Homo sapiens: one gene and its partner. The protein of the gene in region 1 interacts with the protein of each later gene in a biochemical or structural test. Each region holds a gene or a part of one and is shown in the gene's direction. Other genes may lie near its edges.

The links. The genes of interacting proteins can lie anywhere in the genome.
Region 2: of the proteins of OTUD6A (region 1) and RPS6KB1, one has a biochemical effect on the other in vitro, tested with the Homo sapiens proteins (one study listed by BioGRID).

What each region holds. Positions count from the first base shown.
Region 1 is NC_000023.11:70,058,351-70,064,705, forward strand, and holds OTUD6A (OTU domain-containing protein 6A), read left to right. Parts: upstream 1-4,106; 5' UTR 4,107-4,174; coding exon 4,175-5,041; 3' UTR 5,042-5,829; downstream 5,830-6,355.
Region 2 is NC_000017.11:59,910,121-59,917,149, forward strand, and holds part of RPS6KB1 (ribosomal protein S6 kinase beta-1), read left to right. Parts: intron 1-441; coding exon 442-491; intron 492-2,563; coding exon 2,564-2,684; intron 2,685-4,514; coding exon 4,515-4,583; intron 4,584-7,029. UniProt on the Homo sapiens protein: Serine/threonine-protein kinase that acts downstream of mTOR signaling in response to growth factors and nutrients to promote cell proliferation, cell growth and cell cycle progression.

The sequences.
Region 1 (6,355 bases):
GATCTCAGGACACTTCCAATCATGGAGGAAGGAGCAAGAAAGAGATGAGGGGAGGTGCCACACACTTTTGAACAACTAGATTTCACAGGAACTCACTCACAATCTCAAGGACAGTACCAAGAGGATGGTGCTAAACCACTCATGAGAAATCTGCCCCCCATGATCCAATCACCTCCCACAGGCCCCGCCTCCAACAGAGGGTATTACAATTCAACATGAGGTTTGGGCAGGGACACAGACCCAAACCATATCAGAATCAAAGTAGAAATCATTAATAGATAACAGGAAAACCTACAAACACTTGGAAGCTAATAACTCACTTGTAAATAATCCATGGGCCAAAAAGTCTCAAGGAAAACCAAAAAGTACATTGAACTGAAGGATAATGAAAACTAAACATATCAAAACATGGGAGAACCAGTTAAAGTAGTACTGAGAAGGAAGTTTATATCACTAAGCGTATACTTTGGAAAAAGAGAAAAAGTCTGAAAGCAATTATTCAAGCTCCCACCTCAAGAACCTAGCAAAAGAAGAGCAAACTAAACCCAAAGCAAGCAGAAGGAAGAATATAATAAATAGCATAAACTAATGAAATCTAAAACAGAAAATCAATGGGGAAAATCAATAAGACAACATGCTAGTTCTTTGAAAAGATCAATAAAATTGACAAATCTTTAGCAAGACTGACAAAGAACAAAAGAGGAAACACAAATTACCAATAAAGCAGGGAATACCACTATAAATCCTCCCAACATCAAACAATAAAAATGGAATACTACAAATAATTCTGCACACATAAATTTGACTACTCAGAATAAATGGACCAATTCCTCAAAAAACACAAGCTACCAAAATTCACTCAATATGAAATATATAATTTGATTAGTCCTATTAAGGAAAACTTTTTTTTAATTTTAAAACTCCCAAGAAAGTGATCTCTTGGCCCTGATGGTTTCACTGGAGAATCCTATCAAATGTTTAAAGAAGAATTATTACTGATTTTACACAATCTCTTTCCAAAAAAATAGAAGAGGAAGGAACACTTCCCTCCTCTTCTTGTGAAGTTAGTATTTACCCTGACACTAAAACTAAACAAAACAGTACCAAAAAAGAAAACTGCAGACCAATACCTCTCATGAACATAGATTTTTTTTAATCCTTTTTTAAATTACCAAAAGAATTCCTCAACATATAAAAATAATGATAAACTATGACCAAATCAGGTTGATTTCTGAAATGCAAGACTAGCTTAATACTTAAAAATCAATCACTATAGTCTATCATATTAATAGGTTATAGAAGAAAAATCATATTGGCATATCAATACAGAAAAAACATTGACAACATTTAATACCCATTCATGTCAAAAACTCTCAGAAAAATAGGAATAGATGGGAAAGGCCTCAACTAGATAAATAACATTTACAAAATCCTACAGCTAACATCATACTTATCAGTGAAAGATGAAATTCTTTTCCTCCTAAAATCAAGATCAAAACAAGGATGTCTGCCCTTGCCACTCTTATCCAACATAGTGCTGGAAGTTCTAATCAGCACTATAAGGCAAGAAAAGGAAATAAAAGACATACTTACTGGAAAGGATGAAATAAAACTGTCCCTATTCACAGATGACATGATTGCCTACATAGAAAATTCCAAGGAATCAAGGGGGGAAAAAACCTCCTAGAAATAATTAGCTAGTTAAGCAAGGTCACAGAACACAAGATAAACAAAAAAAGTCAATTGTATTTTTATATACTAGCAATGACCATGTGAACATTGTAAATGTTCACATTATAAAAATACAATACCATTTACAATCACTCAAAAAAAGAGAAATGCTTAAGTGTAAATCTAACAAAATATGCACAGGATTTATATGCTGAAAATCATGCAGTGTCACTGAAAGAAATCAATGAAGATCTACGTAAATGGAGATACATACCCAGGTGTTCAAGGACTGGAAGACTCAACATAGTAAAGATGTCAATTCTCCCCAAATTGATATTCAGCTTGAACACGATTCCTACAAAAATCCTGGCCAGGCGCGGTGGCTCACGCCTGTAATCTCAGCATTTTGGGAGGCTGAGGTGAGAGGCTCGCTTGAGCCCAGGAGTTCGAAACCAGCCTGAGCAACATAGTGAGGCCCCGTTTCTACAAAAAGTAAAAAAAAAAAAAAAAAAAAAAAAGTTAGCTGGATATGGTGGTGTGTGTAGTCATCCCGGCACTTTGAGAGGCCAAGGCAGGGGGATCGCTTGAACTCAGGAGTTCAAGACCAGCCTGGCCAACATGGTGAAACCCTGTCTCTACTAAAAATACAAAAAGTATCCGGGTGTGGTGGTGTGCGCCTGTAGTCCCAGCTACTCAGGAGGCTGAGACATGAGACTTGCTTGAACCCAGAAGCTGGAGGCTGCAGTGAGCCGAGATCATGCCACTGCACTCCAGCCTGGGTGACAGAGCAAGACTCCGTCTCAAAAAAAAAAAGAAAAAAAAAGGAAGGAAGGAAACCAAGGAAGGAAGAAGAAAGAGAGTAAGAGAGAGAGAGAGAGGAAGAAAGAGAGTGAGAGAGAGAGAAAGAAAATAGGCAAATGAAGGGCTGAGCATGGTGTCTCACATCTGTAATCCCAGCACTTTGGAAGGCAGAGGTGGAGGACCACTTGAGCCCAGACTGGAGTGCAGTGCCGCTATCTTGGCTCACTACAACTTCTGCTTCCCAGGCTCAAGCTATCCTCCCACCTCAGCCCCCAGGAGTAGTTGGGACTACAGGCACACACCACCACACCTGGCTAATTTTTGTATTTCTAGTAGAGTTAGGGCTTCACCATGTTGCCCAGGCTGGTCTGGAACTCCTGACCTCAAGACATCCTCCCACCTTGGCCTCCCAAAGTGCTGGGATTACAGGCGTGAGCCACCGCATCTGGCAAAAAAAAAAAAAAAAAAAAAATTCCCCAAAATTAGCCAAGTATGGTGGTGCCTGTAGTCCCAGCTACTCAGGATGTTGAGGCAGGAGGATCACCTGAGCCTGAGCCCAGGAGTTTGAGGCTGCAATGAGCCATGATCACGCCACTGCATTCCACCCTCGGTGACAGAGCTAGACTCCACCCCCCCCAAAAAAAAGAGAGAGAAAATAGGCAAATGACATAAACATTTTACTGAAAAGGATATGGCATAGATGACAAATGAGCACATGAAAAAAGGAACATCATTAGCCATCAGGGAACTTCACACTTATCAAAATGGCTAAAATAAAAACTTGTGACTGGGCACAGTGGCTCATGCCAGCACTTTGGGAGGCCGAGGCGAGTAAATCACCTGAGGTCAGGAGTTCCAAGACCAGCCTGGCCAACACGGCGAAACCTCGTCTCTACTAAAAATACAAAAATTAGCCGGGCGTGGTGGCAGGCGCCTGTAGTCCCGGCTACCCGGGAGGCTGAGGCAGGAGAATCGCTTGGACCTGGGAGGCAGAGGTTGCAGTGAGCTGAGATTGCACCATTGCACTCCAGCCTGGGCGACAGAGCGAGACTCCGTTCCCCGCGCCCCCCCCTCAAAAAAAGAGTAAACTGAAAGGACTGTGTTTGCAGGAATGTAAGGAAATGTCCTTGTTCTGATGCACAAGTTAATGGTTCCCTGGTGAAGGGACCTGAAAGACTGGAGAAAAACGCACTGCTTCCTCAACAGTAGGGGCAATGCCAAGTCCAGGGTTAGAGCACATTCAGCGGTGTAGTATCTGTCATGTGGCTGTCAGGCATGGCTACTGCCTGCATTGTGTGCAGACTTGGAAATGAAGTCGGCTCTCAATCAGCGAAAGACTCTACAGGCCCAACTGCCACACACATTGCAGGAAGGCCATATTTGAATCCCGCCAAAAACCTTTGCTGTGGGGTCCAATGGGCTCATACTTCCGGTCTCCCAACAGCCAATCCTAGCACTGGGCATTTGCGGGTGGCCCAGCAAGTGGCCTAGCACTTGCGGGGGCGTGGCCATGGAGACACAGTGACCAAAGGCAGAGAAGAATGCGAATGGGGGAGGGGAAGCGGAGGCTGAGGTGAGCCTAGAGCGGCGGTTAGAGCCGGTGAGGTGAAAGAGAGCGACCGTTAGGACAGGCTGAGGACTTCTGGTCTGTTCGGTACTTGAACTGCCAGCAAATTTCAACTCCCGCTTGCCATTCAACATCATGGATGATCCGAAGAGTGAACAGCAGCGCATACTGCGCCGCCACCAACGCGAGAGGCAGGAGCTGCAGGCCCAGATCCGGAGCTTAAAAAACTCGGTCCCCAAGACCGACAAGACGAAAAGAAAGCAGTTGCTCCAAGACGTGGCCCGCATGGAGGCCGAGATGGCTCAGAAGCACCGGCAGGAGCTGGAGAAGTTCCAAGACGACAGTAGCATTGAATCTGTCGTCGAAGACCTGGCCAAGATGAATCTGGAAAACCGGCCTCCCCGCTCCTCCAAAGCCCACAGAAAGAGAGAAAGAATGGAGTCCGAGGAGAGGGAGCGCCAGGAGAGCATCTTCCAGGCTGAGATGTCGGAGCACCTGGCCGGCTTCAAGCGCGAGGAGGAGGAGAAGCTCGCCGCCATCCTGGGAGCCAGGGGTCTGGAGATGAAAGCGATCCCGGCCGACGGCCACTGCATGTACCGCGCCATCCAAGACCAGCTGGTGTTCAGCGTGTCTGTGGAGATGCTGCGCTGCCGCACCGCCAGCTACATGAAGAAGCACGTCGACGAGTTCCTGCCCTTCTTCAGCAACCCCGAGACCAGCGACTCCTTCGGCTACGACGACTTCATGATCTACTGCGACAACATCGTGCGCACCACGGCATGGGGAGGCCAGCTGGAGCTGAGGGCCCTGTCGCACGTCCTGAAGACCCCCATCGAGGTGATCCAGGCCGACTCGCCCACCTTGATCATCGGGGAGGAGTACGTCAAGAAGCCGATCATCCTGGTCTACCTGCGCTATGCCTACAGCCTCGGCGAGCACTACAACTCCGTGACACCGCTCGAGGCCGGCGCCGCCGGGGGCGTGCTCCCGCGTCTCCTGTAGGCCCCAAGGCGCTGAGCAGCCCCGGGAAACTGTCGCCGTCGCCGCATCTCCTCAGTAGGCTCAGTTTATTTTCCCCTTTTGCTTTTCTCTGTTTTTCTTTTCCTTCCTTTTAATCAAAACTACCCGCCCCCGCCCCGCCCCCGCTTTCCTAACCTTGCTGCTTTCACAGGGTGGGAAACGAAATTCGAGGGAAATTCCCCGGAAATATGAGGGAAATCTCTGCATTGCACCACCAGAGGGGCATAAATTTGAAAGTTCTAACCTCTTCTTGCCCTTAAGGGTCTTTTACCTCCCTCACCAACTAAGATTTGGTCATGTTGCGTATAACTTCACCACAAAAATGGAAATATTGGCCGGGCGCGGTGGCTCACGCCTGTAATCCCAGCACTTTGGGAGGCCGAGGCGGGCGGATCACGAGGTCAGGAGTTCGAGACCAGCCTGGCCAACATGGTGAAACCCCACCTCTACAAAAAATACAAAAATTAGCCGGGCGTGGTGGCAGGCACCTGTAGTCCCAGATACTCGGGAGGCTAAGGCAGGAGAATCGCTTGACGGGAAGCGGAGGTTGCAGTGAGCCGAGATCGTGCCTTTGCACTCCAGCGTGGAAGACAGTGAGACTCCGTCTCAAAAAAATGAAAAATTAGCCAGGCAGGTTGGCGGGGGCCTGTAATCCTAGCTACTTGGGGTGCTGAGGCAGGAGAATCAACTGAACCCGGGAGGCGGAGGCTGCAGTGGGCCGGGATCGTACTACTGCACTCCAGCATGGAAGACAGCGAGACTCCGTCTCCAAAAAAAAAAAAAGAAAAAAAGGAAATGTTAAGTTTCATGTGTTCTGGGAAAAATAAATCTAGTAGACTAGCTCGGGGAGTCTTCAGGTTTTCCTATGAATGTCTTGGATTACTTAGACAAAATTGGAGTTTATGTGATCAAAATGCCTTGTGAAGGCCTTTTGCTGAGTTTTGGGGGGAAAGATTGCCATGGTTTGCTATTTACTTAAGCTAGACTACTCAGGAGATGTCTCAAGTTATGAACAAGAGATCCGCTAGTACTTTGTTTTGTTTTCTTTTCATCAAAACTTGTGTGGTTCCTAATTAATTTTAGTTTCTCCCATGTTTGCTAATTCTAAATAACAGCATTTGTTAAAACATGTAAGGTAAATCTGTTAAATAGATAAAGTAAATTTAGATAAACTGATAGGCTAGATAAGGTTTACTCTAAGATGTGAAAGATCTGAACTTAATTTCCTTTACTAAAGGTAGGAAGAGATAGGACTTTATTCAAATAGTTGATACGTTTCATTATCTTTACAACTGG
Region 2 (7,029 bases), on another chromosome or scaffold:
AGGTTGCAGTGAGCTGAGATGGCACCGCTGCACTCCAGTCTGGGTGACAGAGTGAGACTCCATCTCAAAAAAGAAAAAAAAAAAAAAAACCCGGGTGCCTATAGTCCCAGCTACTTGGAACGCTGAGGCAGAAGAATCACTTGAGGAGTTTAAGGCTCTGGTATGCTATGATCATACCCCTTCATAGCTATTGACTGCATTCCAGTCTGGGCAACATAGAAAGACCTCATCTCTATTTGTAAAATAATTTAGAGTGAAATTCCCATAGTGTTGTTTGTGTACTGTGTTTTGTTCATTACCATATTTGCCTGTTGTTGAAGTATAAGAGAATTGTTAGGCTGGTTTATTTCATTCATTCTCTTTCAGTTATGAGACAAAGAATTAAACCTTTAAATTTTATGTTTATTAGATTATTTCTGAAACTTTTAACATATTTTTCAGGGTCAGTTAAATGAAAGCATGGACCATGGGGGAGTTGGACCATATGAACTGTAAGTTTATATGAAGAGATTTTCATTGTGTTGTCTTTCTTACAAGTAGGTTTTATCAGTTCTATTTCGTAGCAATCATGTGATTCCTGTAACCTGTTCTTAAATATGTAGTCATATTTATCAACTCGATGTATTGAATTTGGCACCAAAATCTGATCAATATAACCTATCAGAGTTTTGAGATTATGTATGGATTTTGAGGAAAAGATATTAATTCAGATTCAGAGTACTAAATATGAATCTGAGTTGTTAGTTTAAAGAGCCACAGTTTTAATCTTTTCTTACAGAAAAATTTGTAGAAATGCCTCAAAAAGTCAAATGCTTTCTGTTTTGCTTAAATATACAAACAGAAATTCATACAGTCATTCAAACAGAAATTCATGCAATCCGGCTGGGCACAGTGGCTCACACCTGTAATCCCAGCAGTTTGGGAGGCCAAGGTGGGCGGGTCATTTGAGATCAGGAGTTCGAGACCAGCCTGGCCGACATGGCGAAACCCCGTCTCTTCTTAAAATTCAAAAATTAGCCGGGCGACATAGCGAGACTCCGTCTCAACAGCAACAACAAAAAAGAAATTCATGTAATCTTAAGTCATTTTAGACAAGCTCCATTAGGTGAGTATGGTGATTAATCTGCTCTGTATTGTACTCTCAAGTAAAAAGCATTAGTGTAGGAGGAGAATGAGAAGATAGATCACTCATGTAGAAAGCATTTAAATGACAGAGACAATTGCTACCCCTTTTGGATTCTTTATTTTTATTTTTTTGGAGATGGAGTCTCCCTCTGTCACCCAGGCTGGAGTGCAGTGGCACAATCTCGGCTCACCACAACCTCCACCTCCTGGGTTCAAGCGATTGTCCTGCCTCAGCCTCCCAAGTAGCTGGGACTACAGGAGCGCACCACCACACCTGGCTAATTTTTGTTGGGTTTTTTTTTTTTTTTTTTTTTTTTGAGACAAAGTCTCGCTCTTGTTCCCAGGCTGGAGTGTGATGGCATGATCTCGGCCCACTGCAACCTCTGCCTCCCAGGTTCAAGTGATTCTCCTGCCTCAGCCTCCTGAGTAGCTGGGATTATAGGTTCCTGCCACCACGCCCAGCTAATTTTTGTATTTTTAATAGAGACGGGGTTTCACCATGTTGGCTAGGCTGGAATTTTTGTATTTTTAGTGGAGACAGGGTTTTACCATGTTGGCCAGGCTGGTCTTGAACTCTCGACCTCAAGTGATCCGCCCACCTCAGCCTCCCAAAGTGCTGGGATTACAGGCATGAGCCACCACGCCCATTGGATTCTTTAAATCAAGCTAATAACTTGAAAAAACAGATACAGAGAAGAAGTTTTGTACTATGATGTGAACTAATTGGGTAGTTTTGGAAAGATCCCTGATTTTCTGCTGACATTGCCAAATGAGGTTGGATAATACCTAATTTCATAGATATTTTCAATGAAGTAAATTTGAATAACTGCAAGACTTTTTTTCTTTGTCAACTTAATGAACTTTTTCTAACTTACCTTAGCTTTGGGGTGCTTGATGCTTATGAAAATAAATAATTGTCTTCTTTTACTTTGTTGCACTCCTAAGAGCAAGATGGGTCACCAGCAGCTGTATTGGAGTCACCCATGAAAATTCAATCAGGGTTCTTGCTCTTGTTGTGTCTGCTCAAACTGGCAAGGTCTGATCCAGAAATACGGCCTCAATATGTGCGCCAGTGTTTCTATCAGTAAACGAAGGATATAGATTTCATTAAGTTGGACTAAGTGATCTTACTTGAATGGATTATCCAAGGCATCTACCCAATGAAAAACCATAGTACCCCTTTATGCATAAAATAAACAATTATAAAAATAAGTAAATAATTGATTGCCCATTCTATGAACAAGGAGGCAAACGATTATCAGGCCACCCTCCTCTTGACCTGCTGTTCTGTTTGTTTAGAGCACAAATAATTTGGTGTCATGTACTTTTTTACTTTTACTTACTTAGATTACATTTCTCTGTCTCCTTTTTCTTGACTATATGCTGAAAGTAATTTAACTTTTTGCAAATTTATTTTTGGTTTTGCTTTTCTTCCCAGTGGCATGGAACATTGTGAGAAATTTGAAATCTCAGAAACTAGTGTGAACAGAGGGCCAGAAAAAATCAGACCAGAATGTTTTGAGCTACTTCGGGTACTTGGTAAAGGGGGCTATGGAAAGGTAGGCAATATTTTTGAAATGAGAGCTGTTGTCTGTCTTGAATAGATTGATTTTTATGCCCTGGTTCCAGCAGTCATCTTCAGTCTTTGTCAGCTATCAGCAAAGGATGTGATCATGACCACTTAGCTGGTATGTTTGAGGGATGTACAGAAGTTCAGTTTTCCCTTCTTTTCATACCACCACACATGTAAAAGCCTGGCACATAATAGGTACTCAGTCAAGGTTCATAGAATACATAAATAGACAACTGTACCAGGCAAAGTCTATTATTAAAGGGTTCATTCTTTACTTTGGTTAAATGGTATCCTCTTTAAAAATAAAGCCCTCCTTGCTTACAAGAGACATGGCAGTCTGAGTTGTTATCTGTTACTGAGACCTTAATCTCAACTGGTTTTCTGGAGCAATAGAATTGGGGAAGCTGAAGGAATATAAAAAGGGGGAAGAAAACTATTTAGTTTCACAGTTTTGCCCAAGGCTTTACAACTTAAGACGTCACTTTTATGAGTTCTGCCCACAAAACTTTTTACCAAACTATTCTCTTATCAAAATAATTTAGATAATAACTTGGTTAGTATTAAGTTTTAAGAATTATTTTTGCTATTGTGTAGTGTTAATTTTTGCAAAGCAGACATTTGTAGCCTATTCTTATGCTTAAGAACACATTGTAATTTCTAATCATCCTGAATGTGCAACACATGCACTTTGAATCTCACATGTTTTAGGTGTTGCATGAAAATGTTTATAGTTGTCTTTCAGTATGGGGGAGGGGTAAGGGAGAACTGATTCCAAGACCTTTGCAGATAACAAAATCTGCCGACGCTCAAGTGCCTTATATAAAATGGCATAGTATTTGCATATAAGCTACACACATCCTCCCATATGCTTAATTTTTTATTTTATTTTTTATGATTTTTGAGACAGAGTCTCGTTCTTTCCCGCAGGCTGGAGTGCAGTGGCACGATCTCAGCTCACTGCAACCTCTGCCTTCCAGATTCAAGCGATTCTCCTGCCTCAGTCTCCCGAGTAGCTGGGATTACAGGTGTGCGCCACCACATCCGGCTAATTTTTGTATTTTTAGTAGAGATGGGGTTTCACCATGTTGGCCAGGCTGGTCTTGAACTCCTGACCTCAGGTGATCCACCCGAGTTGGCCTCCCAAAGTGCCGGGTTTACAGTTGTGAGCCACCTCACCTGGCCATATTTGTGTTATTTTTTATTGTTTGTATTGTTTATTGTTTTTTCCCCCAAATATTTTCATTCTGCGGTTGGTTGAATCCACGGCTGCTGAACCTGTAGATTCAGAGGGCCAAGTATTAGTACAAACTATTTTAAGTAATAGGTAAACAGTAATTTCCTGCCAACTATTTTTAAATAGTTTTATGTGAAGCAAGGGCAGTGGCAAGCAACCTTGAAAGAAATTTATGAAATATTTTATAATTTTTACTGCCAACTATTTTTAAATAGTTTTATGTGAAGCAAGGGCAGTGGCAAGCAACCTTGAAAGAAATTTATGAAATATTTTATAATTTTTAAGGTGGTATTATGCCTCTGGGAACACTGTTTATAGCTTGTTCTAAGTAGGATTTTATATATTAATATAAAGTAACAGTGTTTATTATTAGATGGTCATTGTCCAACATTACCACCAGATGGCAGCAGAACAAACAGGAAAGTCATGATCATTAATGTGGTCTGTTCTTTTAGCTGATCATTTTTGCACATAGTTTTTATAATATAAACTGCTGTGGCATATGTTTCTTATAACTAGGAATTAAGGGAGTATGCCTGACATAGTTTGCCTTTGAATAACACACACTTTTTTTTAATCCAGGTTTTTCAAGTACGAAAAGTAACAGGAGCAAATACTGGGAAAATATTTGCCATGAAGGTGCTTAAAAAGGTGATTTCCACTCCCCCTTTTTAGTCCTCACACACCATATTTTTACACTTGATCTCAGCCAAAAGGCTGGGAAGCAATCATATCATATTTTTAATTGTTGTAACATTTTGGCCTAAAATTTGCAGTCAAAAAAATGTATCTCAAGCCAGGTACAGTGGTGCACACCTGTGGTCCCAGCTACTTGGGAGACTGAGTCAGGAGGATTGCTTGAACTTAGGAGTTCAAGGGTAGCCTGAGCAATGTAGTAAGACCCAGTCTCTTACAGAAAAAATGTATTTATTTTCTTTTCTTTTTTTTTTTTTTGAGACGTAGTCGCGCTCTGTCGCCCAGGCTGGAGTGCGGTGGTGCGATGTCGGCTCACTGCAACCTCCACCTCCCGGGTTCAGGTAATTCTCCTGCCTCAGCCTCCCGAGTAGCTGGGACTACAGGTGCATGCTGCCACGCCCAGCTACTTTTTTGTATTTTTGATAGAAACGGGGTTTCACCATATTGGCCAGGATGGTCTTGATCTCCTGACCTCAGTGATCCACCTGCCTCGGCATCCCAAAGTGCAGGGATTACAGGCATGAGCCACCGCACCCGGCAAAAAATGTATTTCTAACACAGTTGCAATACTTTTTAGAATGTGAGGTATGTTTCATTACTGTTATTCCTATTTTTATTTCTGCTTGGTGAGTGTGGAAAAGAGAGCTCTTGCAATTCTTTGCTGAGGTAACTCTTCACTGTTTCTGATCTCCTTATTTCTAAGTAATAAGCATGTACTGCCATCTCTTTTTTTTTGAGATGAACTCTCACTCTGTTGTCCAGGCTGGAGTGCAGTTGTACAATCTCAGCTCACTGCAACCTCTGTCTCCCAGGTTCAAGTGATTCTCCTGCCCTAGCCTCCCTAATAGCTGGGATTACAGGCGCCTACCACCACGCCTGGCTAATTTTTGGATTTTTAGTGTAGACGGGGTTTCACCATATTGGCCAGGCTGGTCTCGAACTCCTGACCTCAGGTGATCCATCTGCCTCGGCCTCCCAAACTGCTGGGATTACAGGCACGAGCCACTGCGCCTGGCCTACTGCTATCTTTTTTTTTTTTTTTTTTTTTTTTATTGTGACAGAGTTTTGCTCTTGTTGCCCAGGCTGGAGTGCAGTGGAGTGATCTCGGCTCACCACAACCTCCGCCTCCCAGGTTCAAGTGATTCTCCTGCCTCAGCCTCCCTAGTAGCTGGGATTACAGGCATGTGCCACCACGCCCGGCTAATTTTGTATTTTTAGTAGAGATGGGGTTTCTCCATGTTGGTTAGGCTGGTCTCGAACTCAGGTGATCTGCCCGCCTTGGCCTCCCAAAGTGCTGGGATTACAGGCATGAGCCACCATGCCCAGCCAACTGCTATCTTTTTAATTCAGCAGTTTTCAATTTTTTTTTTTAGACGGAGCCTCACTCTGTTGCCCAGGCTGGAGTGCAGTGGCGTGATCTCAGCTCACTGCAACCTCCACCTCCCAGGTTAAAGCGATTCCTCTGCTTCAGCTTCCTGAGTGTCTGGGATTACAGGCGCCCACCACCACACCCGGCTAATTTTTGTATTTTTAGTAGAGATGCGGTTTCGCCATATTGGCATGCTGGTGTCGAACTCCTGACCTCGGGGGATCGGCCCGCCTTGACCTCCCAAAGTGTTGGGATTACAGGCGTGAGCCACCGAGCCTGGCAGTATTAACTTTCTTTTATGCGAGTTAAGGATTTGTTTCTTGTTTACTTCACCCTCCTTTATCCTCATCCTCTCATTTTGTTTTGCTTTCTTTGAATCTACTATTGTCCTCTGATGTCTTCCAACAACTTTGTAAAACACCTTTCAGTCTAATGTTCTTTGATCAGGCTTATAAGATAATCTATCAGTTCCATTTATTTCCCAGAGGCATATCTTAGGAACTTTCTATCCACCTGTTCCCATCTGGAGTGGTAGCTCTTTAGTCACAACTGTTATGACTGGACTCTTTCTTCACCACAACCCTGGAATCCTCTTGGCTCCTTCAGTGTTGGATCTTTTGTTTCCTGGATCCCATATCTTCATTTTTTCCCTTTTTCTTAGTTTATGTCCTTGTTTTGGTGACACTATACTAGTGGCTCCCTCAGACAAGGTATATAAAGATACATTTATAATAAAAATATATCCATATTGCATATTTGAGAATTTCTTTACATTTTTATTTACTTGATTGTTTATGTTATTGGAGTTGAAAATTATTTTCACTTAGAATTTTGCTCAGTTTTCTTCTATTCTTGAGAGTTTCTGTTGAAGTGCTTTGGCATTCTGATTCCCAGTCGTTTACACATGGCCTATTTTTTCTGTGGAAATATTTAAGATTTTCTCTTTATTTCTGATCTAAGTTTTTATAGTGATGTGTGTTGCTTTGACTTTGATTATTATTTTTATTTAGTTAGTTTTTGAGATAGGGTCTC